4 linked regions of the Homo sapiens genome follow. The protein of the gene in region 2 interacts with the protein of the main gene of each other region in a pairwise test. Each region holds a gene or a part of one and is shown on either strand. Other genes may lie near its edges.

Evidence for each region.
Region 1: the proteins of PRKCA (region 2) and H4C14 interact in binary tests that used the Homo sapiens proteins (3 or more experiments, as listed by UniProt).
Region 3: the proteins of PRKCA (region 2) and CTSO interact in binary tests that used the Homo sapiens proteins (3 or more experiments, as listed by UniProt).
Region 4: the proteins of PRKCA (region 2) and GABPB1 interact in binary tests that used the Homo sapiens proteins (3 or more experiments, as listed by UniProt).

What each region holds. Positions count from the first base shown.
Region 1 is NC_000001.11:149,831,191-149,833,552, forward strand, and holds H4C14 (histone H4), read left to right. Parts: upstream 1-1,466; 5' UTR 1,467-1,494; coding exon 1,495-1,806; 3' UTR 1,807-1,862; downstream 1,863-2,362. UniProt on the Homo sapiens protein: Core component of nucleosome. Nucleosomes wrap and compact DNA into chromatin, limiting DNA accessibility to the cellular machineries which require DNA as a template.
Region 2 is NC_000017.11:66,732,613-66,736,112, reverse strand, and holds part of PRKCA (protein kinase C alpha type), read right to left. Parts: intron 3,426-3,500; coding exon 3,288-3,425; intron 625-3,287; coding exon 451-624; intron 1-450. UniProt on the Homo sapiens protein: Calcium-activated, phospholipid- and diacylglycerol (DAG)-dependent serine/threonine-protein kinase that is involved in positive and negative regulation of cell proliferation, apoptosis, differentiation, migration and adhesion, tumorigenesis, cardiac hypertrophy, angiogenesis, platelet function and inflammation, by directly phosphorylating targets such as RAF1, BCL2, CSPG4, TNNT2/CTNT, or activating signaling cascade involving MAPK1/3 (ERK1/2) and RAP1GAP.
Region 3 is NC_000004.12:155,951,067-155,955,283, forward strand, and holds the start of CTSO (cathepsin O preproprotein), read right to left. Parts: upstream 2,801-4,217; 5' UTR 2,782-2,800; coding exon 2,647-2,781; intron 1-2,646. UniProt on the Homo sapiens protein: Proteolytic enzyme possibly involved in normal cellular protein degradation and turnover.
Region 4 is NC_000015.10:50,299,699-50,303,198, forward strand, and holds part of GABPB1 (GA-binding protein subunit beta-1 isoform beta 2), read right to left. Parts: intron 3,426-3,500; coding exon 3,231-3,425; intron 1,671-3,230; coding exon 1,559-1,670; coding exon of another isoform or gene 1,523-1,558; intron 1,205-1,522; coding exon 1,091-1,204; intron 1-1,090.

The DNA of each region.
Region 1 (2,362 bases), on a different chromosome or scaffold from region 2:
AATGACTGAAGAACCACCAGGTGGATCTACGTGTCTCGAGTCCAGAAGTCTGAATACAGATTTACGATTTATGAGCACACAGAAGGTGGATCCAAGGGAGAGATTAAACAGGGCACAGAAGAGTTTTTAAAAATAATATTTTTCGGGAAAAAAACCCCAACAAAACACGATTCTTTCAGCAGAAACCAGAAGATTTTCTCATAGACTCTCCTACAGAGAGCCCTGATAAAGTAATAAACATGCTAACAGTAAGAACCCCAACCAATTTCATAGGGCAGTTTGCGGTAACTACTCCCAGTATGGAGCAGACAGTCCTCTTGCAAAACCCGATTTAGCAAACTTTGCTAGCTCCATGTGGGGCCTCCAAAGGACACAGCTGGGCACTAAATCCTGGCTGAAAACAAAGGCCGATTTAGAGGATCCGTAGAAACGGATGCACAGAATATCCCTCAGTCTTCTCTATGTAGCAGGCCCTCCATATACGCGGGTTCCCCAAGACCGAAAATATTAAACAAATGAATTTCTTTTTTAAAAAAAAGTACAACAAAAGATAGTAAAAATAAAAACAGTATAACAATTACTTACATAGCATTTACACTGGATTAGGTGTTACGAAGTAATTTAGAGACTATTTAAAGTACACGGGAGGATGTGCATAGTTATGTGCAAATACTACGCCACTTTCTATGAGAGACTTGAGCAACCTGGATTTTGGTATCGGCGGGGGCCCTGGACCAATCCCCTCTCAGTTCTACCGAGGGAGAACTGTTTTGTTTCTTCCAGCACGGCTTTGACCGACAGTGTGTTGGGATTCGCTGACGTCCATGAGAAAGCTTGGCAGCATGCTGAGACCAATTTTCCCAGGGCCAGAATTCTCCTGTGTGAGCTAAAATACAGTGGCTCGGTCCAACAAAACAGAGCCTGGAGCCAGGAATTATGGCGAACCTGCTCCCTCCCGTCCTCCCTTGGCGCACAGATCCCTGGCGCCGCCGCTCTTGAGGTCGCCTCTCGCGTGTCGACCTCATCGTCGGAACGGCGCTTCCTGAAGCTTTATATAAGCACGGCTCTGAATCCGCTCGTCGGGATTAAATCCTGCGCTGGCGCGCTCCTGCCAGTCTCTGGCCTCCATTTGCTCTTCCTGAGGCTCCCTCCAGAGACCTTTCCCTTAGCCTCAGTGCAATGCCTTCCGGGCGTCCTCAGACCAGACACAGGCCAAAGCCACTACAGAATCCGGAAGCCCCGGTTGGGATCTGAATTCTCCCGGGGACTGTGGCGTAGCGGTTAAAAAAAAAAAAGAGTGAGAGGGACCTGAGCAGAGTGGAGGAGGAGGGAGAGGAAAACAGAAAAGAAATGACGAAATGTCGAGAGGGCGGGGACAATTGAGAACGCTTCCCGCCGGCGCGCTTTCGGTTTTCAATCTGGTCCGATACTCTTGTATATCAGGGGAAGACGGTGCTCGCCTTGACAGAAGCTGTCTATCGGGCTCCAGCGGTCATGTCCGGCAGAGGAAAGGGCGGAAAAGGCTTAGGCAAAGGGGGCGCTAAGCGCCACCGCAAGGTCTTGAGAGACAACATTCAGGGCATCACCAAGCCTGCCATTCGGCGTCTAGCTCGGCGTGGCGGCGTTAAGCGGATCTCTGGCCTCATTTACGAGGAGACCCGCGGTGTGCTGAAGGTGTTCCTGGAGAATGTGATTCGGGACGCAGTCACCTACACCGAGCACGCCAAGCGCAAGACCGTCACAGCCATGGATGTGGTGTACGCGCTCAAGCGCCAGGGGCGCACCCTGTACGGCTTCGGAGGCTAGGCCGCCGCTCCAGCTTTGCACGTTTCGATCCCAAAGGCCCTTTTTAGGGCCGACCACTTGCTCATCTGAGGAGTTGGACACTTGACTGCGTAAAGTGCAACAGTAACGATGTTGGAAGGTAACTTTGGCAGTGGGGCGACAATCGGATCTGAAGTTAACGGAAAGCTACCGCGGCCCATAGCGCTCACAGCCGTAAAGACTTAAGTCGTTGACCGAAAGCGGCTTTTTCACTTACCTGGGCTTTTTTTTTTTTTTTTTTTTTTTTTAAAGCCTTTATCGGTATGAAAGGTTGAATGCTCTAGGTTTGAGCACTGCTTTCTCGGCTTGCTCTTCTGGTGCAGTATAGGCACACCTAGAGGGCCACGTCAGTCTTTGCGATCACCAAATCTGGTTCTGAGAAATAGGCACTGGCAATTTACACATGCCTTGCTGTGTAATCTCACTATATTTGCTCAGGCAAAGTGGGAGAAGCAGCCTTAGGTTTTCATTCTAGAGATGCCGGCTTTCCCACCTGATCGGCTTAGAGTTCACGATTGACTGTTTTGGGCTTCATTTC
Region 2 (3,500 bases):
CTCAGGAGTTTAAGACCAGCCTGGGAAACATGGTGAAACCCCCGTCTCTACTAAAAATACAAAAATTAGCTGAGTGTGGTGGGGTACATCTGTGGTCTCAACTACTTGAGACTGCAGTGGGCCGTGACTGTGCCACTGCACTCTAGCCTGGGCGAGAGAGTGAGATCCTGTCTCAAAAAAAAAAAAAAAAAAGAAAGAAAGAAAGAAAAAGAAAAAGAAATGTTTGCCGAATTAAATGGCATGAATGCCAAGCAGAGGACATCACAGAGAAGGCATGCCCCAAATCTACCAGTGAGAGAGGTGGGAGGTGGTCCCCAGTCACCTCTGCTTGACATCACAACACACCTTTCTCCAGCCTTCTCCAAAGGAACAAGGATGCTAAGAAGCTTTGGGCTGAGGCGTAGCTCTGAGAGCTGGGTACTGCATCGCAGGGATTCCCAGGGTCCTTACCACTGTCTGGAAGCAGGAGTGCAGCTGCGTCAAGAACGGGGGTTTGTCAAGCAGGGCCAAGACTCGCTTTTCTACCATGGTGCACTCCACGTCATCATCCTGAATCACCACATCCTTCTTCAGGATTTTGATTGCATACAGTTCTTCTGTGCCCTTCCTGTCGGCAAGCATCACCTGAGAACACGTCAAGAACAACCTGAACACTTGTAAGCACATATCTTGGGGGGCAGAGGGAAGGAACCAGGCCAGGTGACGGCTCAGTGACAGTTTGTGCACCTTTGTCAATGTGGAACATAAAAATATTAAACTTTATGTGCAAATTTGTAAATTCTACACATCACTACAAATTCAGTCCCTCCAGCATTTGCAAAACTTCAATGCTGCCAAGATTTGTAAATGGTATAGGCCACTGCCACATAATGGCACTATTTTGGCTGCTAAAATGAATACTCAACATTCTCTATCAGGATTAGTCTGGAATAATGCACATTTTTCAGGAGTATCCTTAGAGTGAAAGCTGACTGACATTTATAATCTCTCAAGTCAAGAACCTAGACTTGAAATCAGTTCCTGCGTCTATGAAATGTGGGGCCACAGAAACCGAATGGAGATACAGGCAAATTGCTGAAGACCCCATGTCAGTATCTCTTAATGATTGTATTTGCTTACTACAAGTGAACATTTAATTTTTAGTTGTGAAAACTATTCATCAACCAGCATTTCTGAGCATCCCTTCTGTTCTGAACACTGAGAAATAGTAACAACACAGTGAACCCACTATAGCTTTTTGGATGCAGTTGCTTTTAAGGAAGTAGAAACCAGGTGAGGACTGTGCACTCTGATCTGAGAGACCAAATAAATGCCTCTTTAGCGACTAAGATGGACCCTAATGTCGCAGGCATTTGAACCAGAGTGACTCCATCTTGAATAAGGGATGGGAAAAATAAGGCTGAGATCTGCTGGGCCGCATTCCCAGGAGGTCAGGCATTCTTAGTCGCAGGATGAGATAGGAGGTCAGCAGGGCTAGTATCACAAGACACAGGTCAGAAAGACCCTGCTGATAAAACAGGATACAGTAAAGAAGCCAGCCAAAACGCACCAAATCCAAGATGGCGATGAGAATAACCTCTGGCTACCCTCATTGCTCATTATATGCATTATTAGCATGTGAAAAGACACTCCCACCAGCACCCCAACAGTTTACAAATGCCATGGCAATGCCCAGAAGTTACCTTATATAGTCTAAAAGATGGAGGAAGCCTCAGTTCTGGGAATTGCCCACCCCTTTCCCAGAAAACTCATGAATAATAAAACCCTTGTTTAGCATACGATCAAGAAATACCTCTAAGTATACTCAGTCAAGCAGCCCATGCTGCTGCTCTGCCTATGGAGTAGCTGTTCTTTCATTTCTTTACTTCTCTAACAAACTGACTTTCACTTTATTCTGTGGACTCGCTCTGAATTCTTTCTTGCTTGAGGTCCAAGAACCCTCCTCTTGGGGTCTGGATCAGGACCCCTTTCTGGTAACATTAAAGTTAAGGAAATAGTTATCTATGGGTTGAGGGTTCAGGGCCCAGCTGGCATGGCAAATTTCTAAATCCCTACAGCTACAAGATAAACCACTCTCGCTAAACTCCCTAGCAGTAGGAGCTATCAGGCCCCTCCTAACTTTGATTGACAACTCAGATCACTATGACTTGGACTGGACAGAGAACTGGCCTTACAAACATTCTTTTCTGTGATGCAACTGCAGACCTGAAGCCAGTTTCAGCAGCTTGCAGAGCCTGCACACAAACTGTTTTTGGGTCCTGTGGTTCACCTTTTGATCTAAAGAGCCAACTTCCACCTTTTTTTATTTATTTACTTTTTTTGAGACGGAGTCTCCCTCTGTTGCCCAGGCTGGAGTGCAGTGGCATGATCTTGGCTTACTGCAACCTCCACCTCCCAGGTTCCAGCGATTCTCCTGCCTCAGCTTCCCGAGTAGCTGGGATCACAGGTGCACACCACCACACCCAGCTAATTTTTGTATTTTTAGTAGAGATGGGGTTTCACCATTTTTGCCAGGCTGGTCTCAAACTCCTGACCTCAAGTGGTCCACCTGCCTTGGCCTCCCAAAGTACTGGGATTACAGGCATGAGCCACCATGCCTAGGCAAATTCCACCTCATTTTAATGCTAAGTCCCCACCCCAAAGTGAACATAAGATGCATGTTACATATATGTTCATCCATTGTGCCTGTGCTAGGCTTCCCTCACAGATAAGTCAAGCTTTCCCCCCAAACCTGTTGAATATGGATGACTCTACTGTGTAACATGGACCCTGTGAGGCATAAAACCCAACCTGCCCTTTCTCTCCTCAAAGAGAGGGCACCTTCATTTCACACCATAGACTTTCTTTTATGGGTTTGCAAACTGATACCACCAATAAACCTCTCCTTTCTACCATTTAGCCATCCTGGTGGTCTTCTGGATGACTGTACAAATCACAGGGAAATCTTTTTTTTTTTTTTTTTTTGAGACGGAGTCTCACTGTCTCCCAGGCTGGAGTGCAGTGGTGCGATCTCGGCTCACTGTAAGCTCCGCCTCCCAGGTTCACGCCATTCTCCTGCCTCAGCCTCCCAAGTAGCTGGGACTACAGGCGCCCACCACCATGCCCAGCTAATTTTTTGTATTTTTAGTAGAGATGGGGCTTCACCGTGTTAGCCAGGATGGTCTTGATCTCCTGACCTTGAATCACAGGGAAATCTAATGTGCTATTCTGCAAACTACGAGGAGAACAAAACTGATTCGACATTCTCTGCAGAAGCCCCTGCAATTTGCAGACGACTGTCCTCTTACCTTTCCAAAACTCCCCTTTCCCAACACCATGAGGAAATTGAAGTCCGTGAGTTTCACTCGGTCAAGGTTGTTGGAAGGTTGTTTCCTGTCTTCAGAGGGACTGATGACTTTGTTGCCAGCAGGGCCAAGTTTGGCTTTCTAAATAACAAGCACAAATGGGAAACACGTGGGTCATTTTTCTGGGGAAAGAGTGACAGAAACCACCGTGTTGTA
Region 3 (4,217 bases), on a different chromosome or scaffold from region 2:
CATCTATTTACACATAAATAAATATTCCTAAATATATAAATAATCTTATAATAATATAACCTGTGTCATTACGGCAACTGGTCTTAAGGTAAAGCTTTGGAAATTTTATGTAAAATCACATGTACTTTGGCATAGATATTATTCTAAAGTGAGTGTATCAAGCAAATTTTATTGGATCCAATATTGGGTCTGTGCCTCCCAAAAGGATAAGAATACCAAATGTTCTGTGGTAAAATAATGAGCATCAGTAAATATGAGGGCATAGCTAGGTTTTGGCACAAAGGAGAGTAGGCTAAATCCAATAGTTAAGAGCTTCCTGAGCACTGGAAGTTTCTAAAGGAGTGAAAGTGCAGAGATAAGGGGTGCCATCCAAAGTCAGGTGTCTTGTGAGGCATCCCATAATAAACCATAGTGGAGTCTAGTTTTCACTGAACAATACTATAATATTTTGTGGGAAAGTCATGGGCTAACCTAACTTTCATTTAACGTGCATTCCTGGGAAACTTACAAAACTATCTAAGGCTAAGATTAAAACAAATTTTAAAACCTTCACCATTCTCTAAACCCATGACCATGAAAGACATTACTAATTAATCAAGGACTTTCTTGAACCAGATCTTCAGCTGCAAACCCCTGAATCATCAATTCACCAATGAATTAACTTGATTTCAACAAGAAGTTTCACGGTTACCAAGGAGGCAAGGCCCTTTCCACCTTTCCCACTGTCCAGCTCTCTATCCCAAGTCCGAACAGCAATCTCCAGCTAACTAATCTAACTAATTCCTGATGATCTTAGATGAAAGACTTTCATCCCAAATCCATCCATCTCCCCCACTTCCCTCCTCCCGTCCATGGAAAAAATGTCTTCCATGAATCCGGTCCCTAGTGCCAAAAGATTGGGGACCACTAAGGTAGAAAATCGGTTTTAAAGCATTCTTGGATAAAGTCCAACTAAGCACCGAGAGGTGTTCAGTTTCCAGCAACTGTGCGTTGAAGCCTCAATGTTCTCTTTTTTGGGTATCCATCTCATGAAGCAAATTCTTACAGGCAGCAATTGCTTTGAAAATTTTTTCAGTATTTCTTAACCCGAGGTTTTTAAAATGTACTAAGAGTCTTCATAATTCGATCCTCCTCCACTTCCAACTTTCCATCTTTCAACCTGTTTCTTTGTATTTCTCCTGAGAAAAGTTACATTTTCTAGACATTCATCAGGGTATGGCCTCTTTACAGGACCAGTATGAGTCACTACATAAATTATACACATATATATTTATAAATTATCTAAAATCTAAATAAATGTTAAAAATATATTTATAAGTCTAGCCCTTTGAGCTTTGTCCTGAAATATTATTTTTAGGAGCCTGACAGTGTGTTTATTTATTTAGCCAATGAATACGTTACCAATAAAGGTGAAACTGACTTTTCCCCTAAGGGGTTTCGTTTACCAGGAAAACGAACGTAAGTTGAGGATAGGGGTAGAATACAGGCCAGAATTTTGTTCTTGAAAGAGTAAGAGGACTTCTGGTTTTGAAAGCTAGAACTGAACTCAAGAATAATAAAGTGGAGATAACAGTACACATCTCGGTTTGGACAAAACGTAAGAGTGGACAGAATCAGGGAAGGCTGGCCTTCCTAAACATTGGAGCTTTCCAGGAGAGTCGGGGGAAAAGAGCACAGCTATGAAATCCTGTGAGAAATTCCAACAAACACCAGGAAAAAAGATACACTTCCTTGAGCAATATTACTCAACTCAGACTTATGTTTGATTCAGAATGAAAGAATTTTCTTTTCCAATAAATTAAATCATGATAATGGCATCTTTCATGAATTTAAAAATGTGTTAAATAGTATCAGCTATCTAGAACATAGTGAGGCGAACACTAAATCGGCATCCCTTGCAGTTTCCTTGGTTTCAGGAAAATCATTATTTGTGCTCAGCTAACTGGTCCCTTCCAGAGTTTTCATGCTAGACTCAAATCTAAGTATTTATTATAAATATTATAAAATATAAATTATATTATATTTCGTATAATAATATGAAAAGGAAATTAAATGCTTCTCTTTTCTTCAACTCAGTCTCCGCCAAGGCAGGAAGAACTTTTAAAGTGGTGCGTTAGTTTAAGGAGAATCATAAACCATCAGGATTCTTTAATCTGGCTAAAGACAGGCTCTTTGTTTCTAACTTCTGATCACTAGCGCCCTCCTCGGGAAAAAAAAACACGACAGGTTTCTTCCACCAACAGGCTGCTCCCTGTTTCTGGTTCTCATAAAAGAGAAATAGAAGAGCTTTGGAAGCCAGTGGCAACGATAGAGGGGATTGCTAAAAGGGGGTGCTTCTTCCCACCAAGGACACTTTGGACGTATCTATGGATTTATTTGGGTGCGTCCCAAAAATCCATAGCGACAAATCTCTTCTGGAAAATCAAGTCTTTTGGTTAGCAAAGGCATGGGGGAGTGACACCATGGCACAAGGAGAGGGGAGAGAGAAGCTGGCTTTTGCACCCGCAGCTCAGGGCCCCAGACGCATCGCAGAGCCACGGGTGCCCACGAGCAGGGTCAGCTCTCGGGGGCCCTCTTCCGCAGCCCAGACCCGGGACAGGAAGTGAGGGAGCAGGGACAGATCCCGGGGAGGCGCGCGCTCGGTACCCGGAAGGCGGCGGCTTCACGCTCGCGGCTCCGCGGCCAGGTCGGGGTGAAGGGGGCGCGGGAGTCCGCATCGCCGCCGCCCCGGCACAGCAGCCACAGCAGCCACGGCAGCCACGGCAGCGCCCGCACGTCCATTGCGGCGCCCGGCTCCTCTGCCGCCCGCGCGGCCTGTTTTCTCTTTCGGTTCCTCGGCTCCTCCCAGCCTGGGCTCGAGGGGCGGAAGGAGCTGGGTTGAGTGCACGATGCTGAGATTGACCCTTTTTTAGGTCCCCGGTGTTCTGTGACTGAAAATCCGGTCAGCTGGAGGCTACGGACCTCCTTGCTGAGGCTAGTTTTTTTGTTTTTGTTTTTGTTTTGGAAGAGTCAGGCACTTGACCATGTGCTTTCGAGGTTTCACTTCCATCCATTAGAAAAAAAGAAGCCTGAGAGTCATTCTTTTGTGTGTGTTGAGATCAGGTCTCACTGCAGCCTCGACCTTCAGGTTCAAGTGCCTCCTGCCTCAGCCTCCGGAGTACCTGGGACTACAGGCGCGTGCCACCACCCCAGGCTATTTTTGTATTTTTAGTAGAGATAGGATCTTGCCATATTGCCCAGGCCGGTCTCGAACTCCTGGACTCTAGTGATCCACCCGCCTTGGCCTCCCAAAATGCTCACAGGTGTGAGCCACCTGGCCTGCCCTGTGAGCCACCGGAAGCTGCCTTTTTCCTTCTTGCCACAATCCCTAAGTTCAAGACCTAGTTCTGAAGTGATGTGGGCCAATACATAGAGTCATCCATTCAGCAGATGTTTATAAATACGTAACAAAATTGTACAGATGTGAAAAGCATACACAGTTTTTGGATCTATTATGGCAGTTTCAAAACTCTTGAAGCCTGTTTCTCCGTTTGCAAAGGAAGATAGAGCCAAGTACATAATTTGCAGGGTTCCGTGTAAACTGAAAATGAAGTTCCCTTGTTCATAAATTGTGAAGAATTTCAAGACGGCAACAGCAGAGCATTAACCCAAGCCATGGGCCTTCTAAGCACCCACTTCTGCACAGGTCACACACTCATGAACCTGGCTCTACCGAGCCTTTCTATTATCATCTATTCTGAACAAGGCTTCCATGTCTGTGAAATTCATATCATTACCCTTGTAGATTTTTAGAACTAACATCAGATTTATGTCTTTAGTTTTTACCTAGGTGCAGTGAGTTACAATATTCTCCAATGCAAACTTCGTAATAAAAATAAAAATAATGTTCCGAGTATTAAGAGGAAAGACACAAGAGTTTTTTATGTACGTTCATGATAAGATATATTGCTCTTGGCAAGTGTGGTGATAAAGATTTTATTTAAATCATAAGTTCACAGAACGATGTTCATGTTTACCTCAGCAGTTCTTTTGTACTTAGCCCTTTTTTGTGACTCATACAAGCACATACTTTTCTTTTTAAACTGAACTTTGCTTTCAGATCATAGTCCCTGTTTATTGACAACCTACGGAGTCAGGAAATTTAAATATAGGCAGTCATCTTTACTTTAGGATAATTGGTATTGTAAAAAAGCCCCTTGAACTAAACTCATTTCAGG
Region 4 (3,500 bases), on a different chromosome or scaffold from region 2:
AGGTAACCCTTTAACAGTGGTTTCTGTATACTATTTCCTAGTTCTATCAGTCATTAAGATTTTATAACACTCTAGTAGAGCTGCTAAAAATTAAAATTTATGAAAAAAGTGTTTTTTGGTTTTGGGTTTTTTTTTTGAGGCAGGGTCTCATTCAGTCGCCTAGGCTGGAATGCAGTGGCATGATCTTGGCTCATGGCAACCTCTGCCTCCCAGGTTCAAGCGATCCTCTGACCTCAGCCTCCTGAGCAGCTGGGACCACAGGAGTGGACCACCACACCTGACTAATTTTTATATTTTTTGGTAGAGATAGGGTTTCACCATGTTGCCCAGGGTTCTGGGCTCAAGCAATCCACCTATCTTGGCCTCTCAAAGTGTTAGGATTACAGGTGTGAGCTACCATGCCCAGCCAAAGTGAGTTGTTTAAACAAAAAGTCACAAACTAGTAAATCAAGAGCCAAATTAGAGACAGGGACATTTTTTTCTGTGAGCCACACAAGTTTTGTTTTTCAATTAGTTACCAAGATTTAATGTTCTTTTAAAATCCAGATTCACAGCTTCCTATTAAAAAACAGAATTTGGGAATACTGGACTGATGACTATAATCAGCTAGAGTTGAGTCACAGATGCCTCCCTGCCCTTGCCCCATTCTTCAGCCGGGTGTAATCTCAATCCTGCCCACTTTAGCCTTTTATTGTCTTCCTGGCCTTTGTAAATATTTGAATCTGCAACTGTTTTTGGTTTTTTTTTTTTTTTTTTTTTTTTGAGACAGAGTCTTGCTCTATCACCCAGGCTGGAGTGCAGTGGCACAAACTCAGCTCACTGCAGCCTTCACCTCCCGGGTTCAAGCAATCCTCCTGCCTCAGCCTCCCGAGTAGCTGGGATTACAGGCCATGTGCCACCACGCCTGGCTAATTTTCTGTATTTTTAGTAGAAACAGAGTTTCACTATGTTGTCCAGGCTGGTCTCAAACTCCTGAGCTCAGGCAATCCACCCGCCTCGCCCTCCCAAAGTGCTAGGATTACAGGTGTGAGCCACGGCACCCAGCCTGAATCTGCAATTTTAATGTACACATTAGACTCGTTTTTCTAACCTGGAGTTTCTGAAGAATTGGACAATGGAGCAGATGCTTCAGCTAAGGCAGCTAATGTAGCTAATACTGATGTAGAAGAGTTTCCAAACTGAACAGCAGATACACCCGTTTCATCTGTAAGAAAAAAGAAAATAGATTTGAATTTCTAAGGAGCTTAATCCAATGCATATTTCTGATATTCTATTTATCTTACTGACTCTTAAACAAAGCTTGGATAGCATTAGCTTTTGAAAGGTAATACTGCAGTAAATTTTGTAATATCACCTTTCTTCAGATTGTTTTGTCTCATAAAAATCTTTTTGCCAGTTATACCAAAGAAAACAAAGGTGGCTGATAGAATCTTACCCTCATTCTCCAACCGTCCTTTCTTACAAGGATGAATACCTACTAAAGCATAAAATCCCAAAGCCTATCCTATATGCATCTCAATACCTGTTGCCTTGGATGAATTTTCTGAAGATACCAGACCTGTTAGGTTCACCACCCCTCCAGGTCCAATGATAAACTGTGGTGTTGCAGCATGTATTGTCACAGTGTCAGGACTCTCTGGGTTTGTGTTGATTTGGTTCTGCATAGCAATCTAGGGAAAAAATGACCACAGTGTTTTCAGAATTATAACCAGAACATATAGCACAAATTCTCCATATAATACAAACACATATAAAGGAGTATTCTCTAAGAAGAATCACATAGTACAAGTGGAAATATTTGTCTAAGGTCCACTGACAGTGTAGGGGCACATCATGGGTATATATTTATATCCCAAGTCCCCCTCTTAGGTAAAGCAGCAAAATCCTGGGAGAGGAGAAACGAGTATCTAAAAGGTTTTTAACAGAACACAGAACAACTGGACATTAAGCTGGCTGAGGTGGCAGGTGCCTGTAATCCCAGCTATTCAGGGGGCTGAGGCAGAAGGAGTGGTTAAGCCCAGGAGTTCAAGACCAGCATGGGCAACATAGTGAGACCCCCATCTCAAAAAACAAAAACAAAAACAAAACAAACAAAAAATATTTCTGCCCTGTAGCTATAGGAATTTAATTATTTCTTCTACGTTTGGCAATACATAATACCACATATATAAAGCATGTCCTTCTCAATTAATTGTTCCCCATCTTCAACTCCAACCCCCAAACTGCACTCTTAGGAGTAAAAGGAATGAAAAGAGGCATGGTAGAATTCATTTTCCTGAACATAAAACATCTTTTAAGTAACTAGTGGAAGCTCAAAGGAGTCAGATAGTCTTAGAAAAGAAGAGTTCTACTGCTGGGATTGGGAACAAACAGGCAAGAAGAGGCAGTAATTAAAGAAGATAATTTATATTATGTCATCTGGCTGAAAATAAGAGAAGTAATGTTGGTTACTAGAAAAATCTTCCCAAAAGCCAAAAACAACAGATATTTTTGAGGATGCTGAAAGATAAAAGAAACAAATCAAACTGCATCACTCACTCAAGGAATGATATTATGGTTGCTAATATATATGTTTTTTAATTTTTATAAAGTCATTTATAGTAGACTTGGAAAAACCATATAGTATCAAAATGCAACAAAAATAATAGAATAAAATGTCTAGGGCCAGGCGCAGTGGCTCACGCCTGTAATCCCAGCACTTTGGGAGGCCGAGGCAGGCAGATCGCCTGAGCTCAAGAGTTCAACACCAGCCTGGGCAACATGATGAAACACCATCTCTACTTAAAACACAAAAAATTAGCCAGGCATGGCAGCATGCACCTGTAGTCCCAGCTATTTGAGAGGCTGGGGCAGGAGAATTGCTTGAACCCAGGAGGCAGAAGTTGCAGTGAGCCAAGATCGTGCCACTACACTCCAGCCTGGGGGACAGATCAAGACTCTGGCTCAAAAAAAAAAAAAAAAAAAAAAAAAAGGTCTAAAGGGAAATTCAGAAACTTAAAAAACAGAAAGTAATCACCTTATCTAATGTTAATGAAGAGACTGGCCTTATAATCAAGAAAATGAATAGTAATAAACAAAGAGGAAGTGAAAGAGAAAAAGGCCTATCCAAAATAACTAAGTCCAAAATGAAAGGCTACAAACAATAGTTTAAATCATGCACAATATAAGAGATCCCTCTACTGATAAGGCTTCTTTTTCTTTATTTTCTTAAATTAAAAGCCAAAAGTTACCTGTAATATCTCTGCTAAATCTTCATTTCCATTGTCTATTGAAATATCAAATGCAGTTTTACAAAATTTACTTTGCGTGTGTACATCAGCACCATATTTGATTAAAAGTTCCACCACCTCTTGATGATTGTGTTCTGTGGCCCAATGGAGAGCTGTCATCTTTAACATGTCCTTTGCATTGACATCAGCACCATGCTACAAAAATATTTCAAAGAGTTTACTAAAATATGAAATATCACATAAAAAATTCCTGATATGAAATTATTAGTT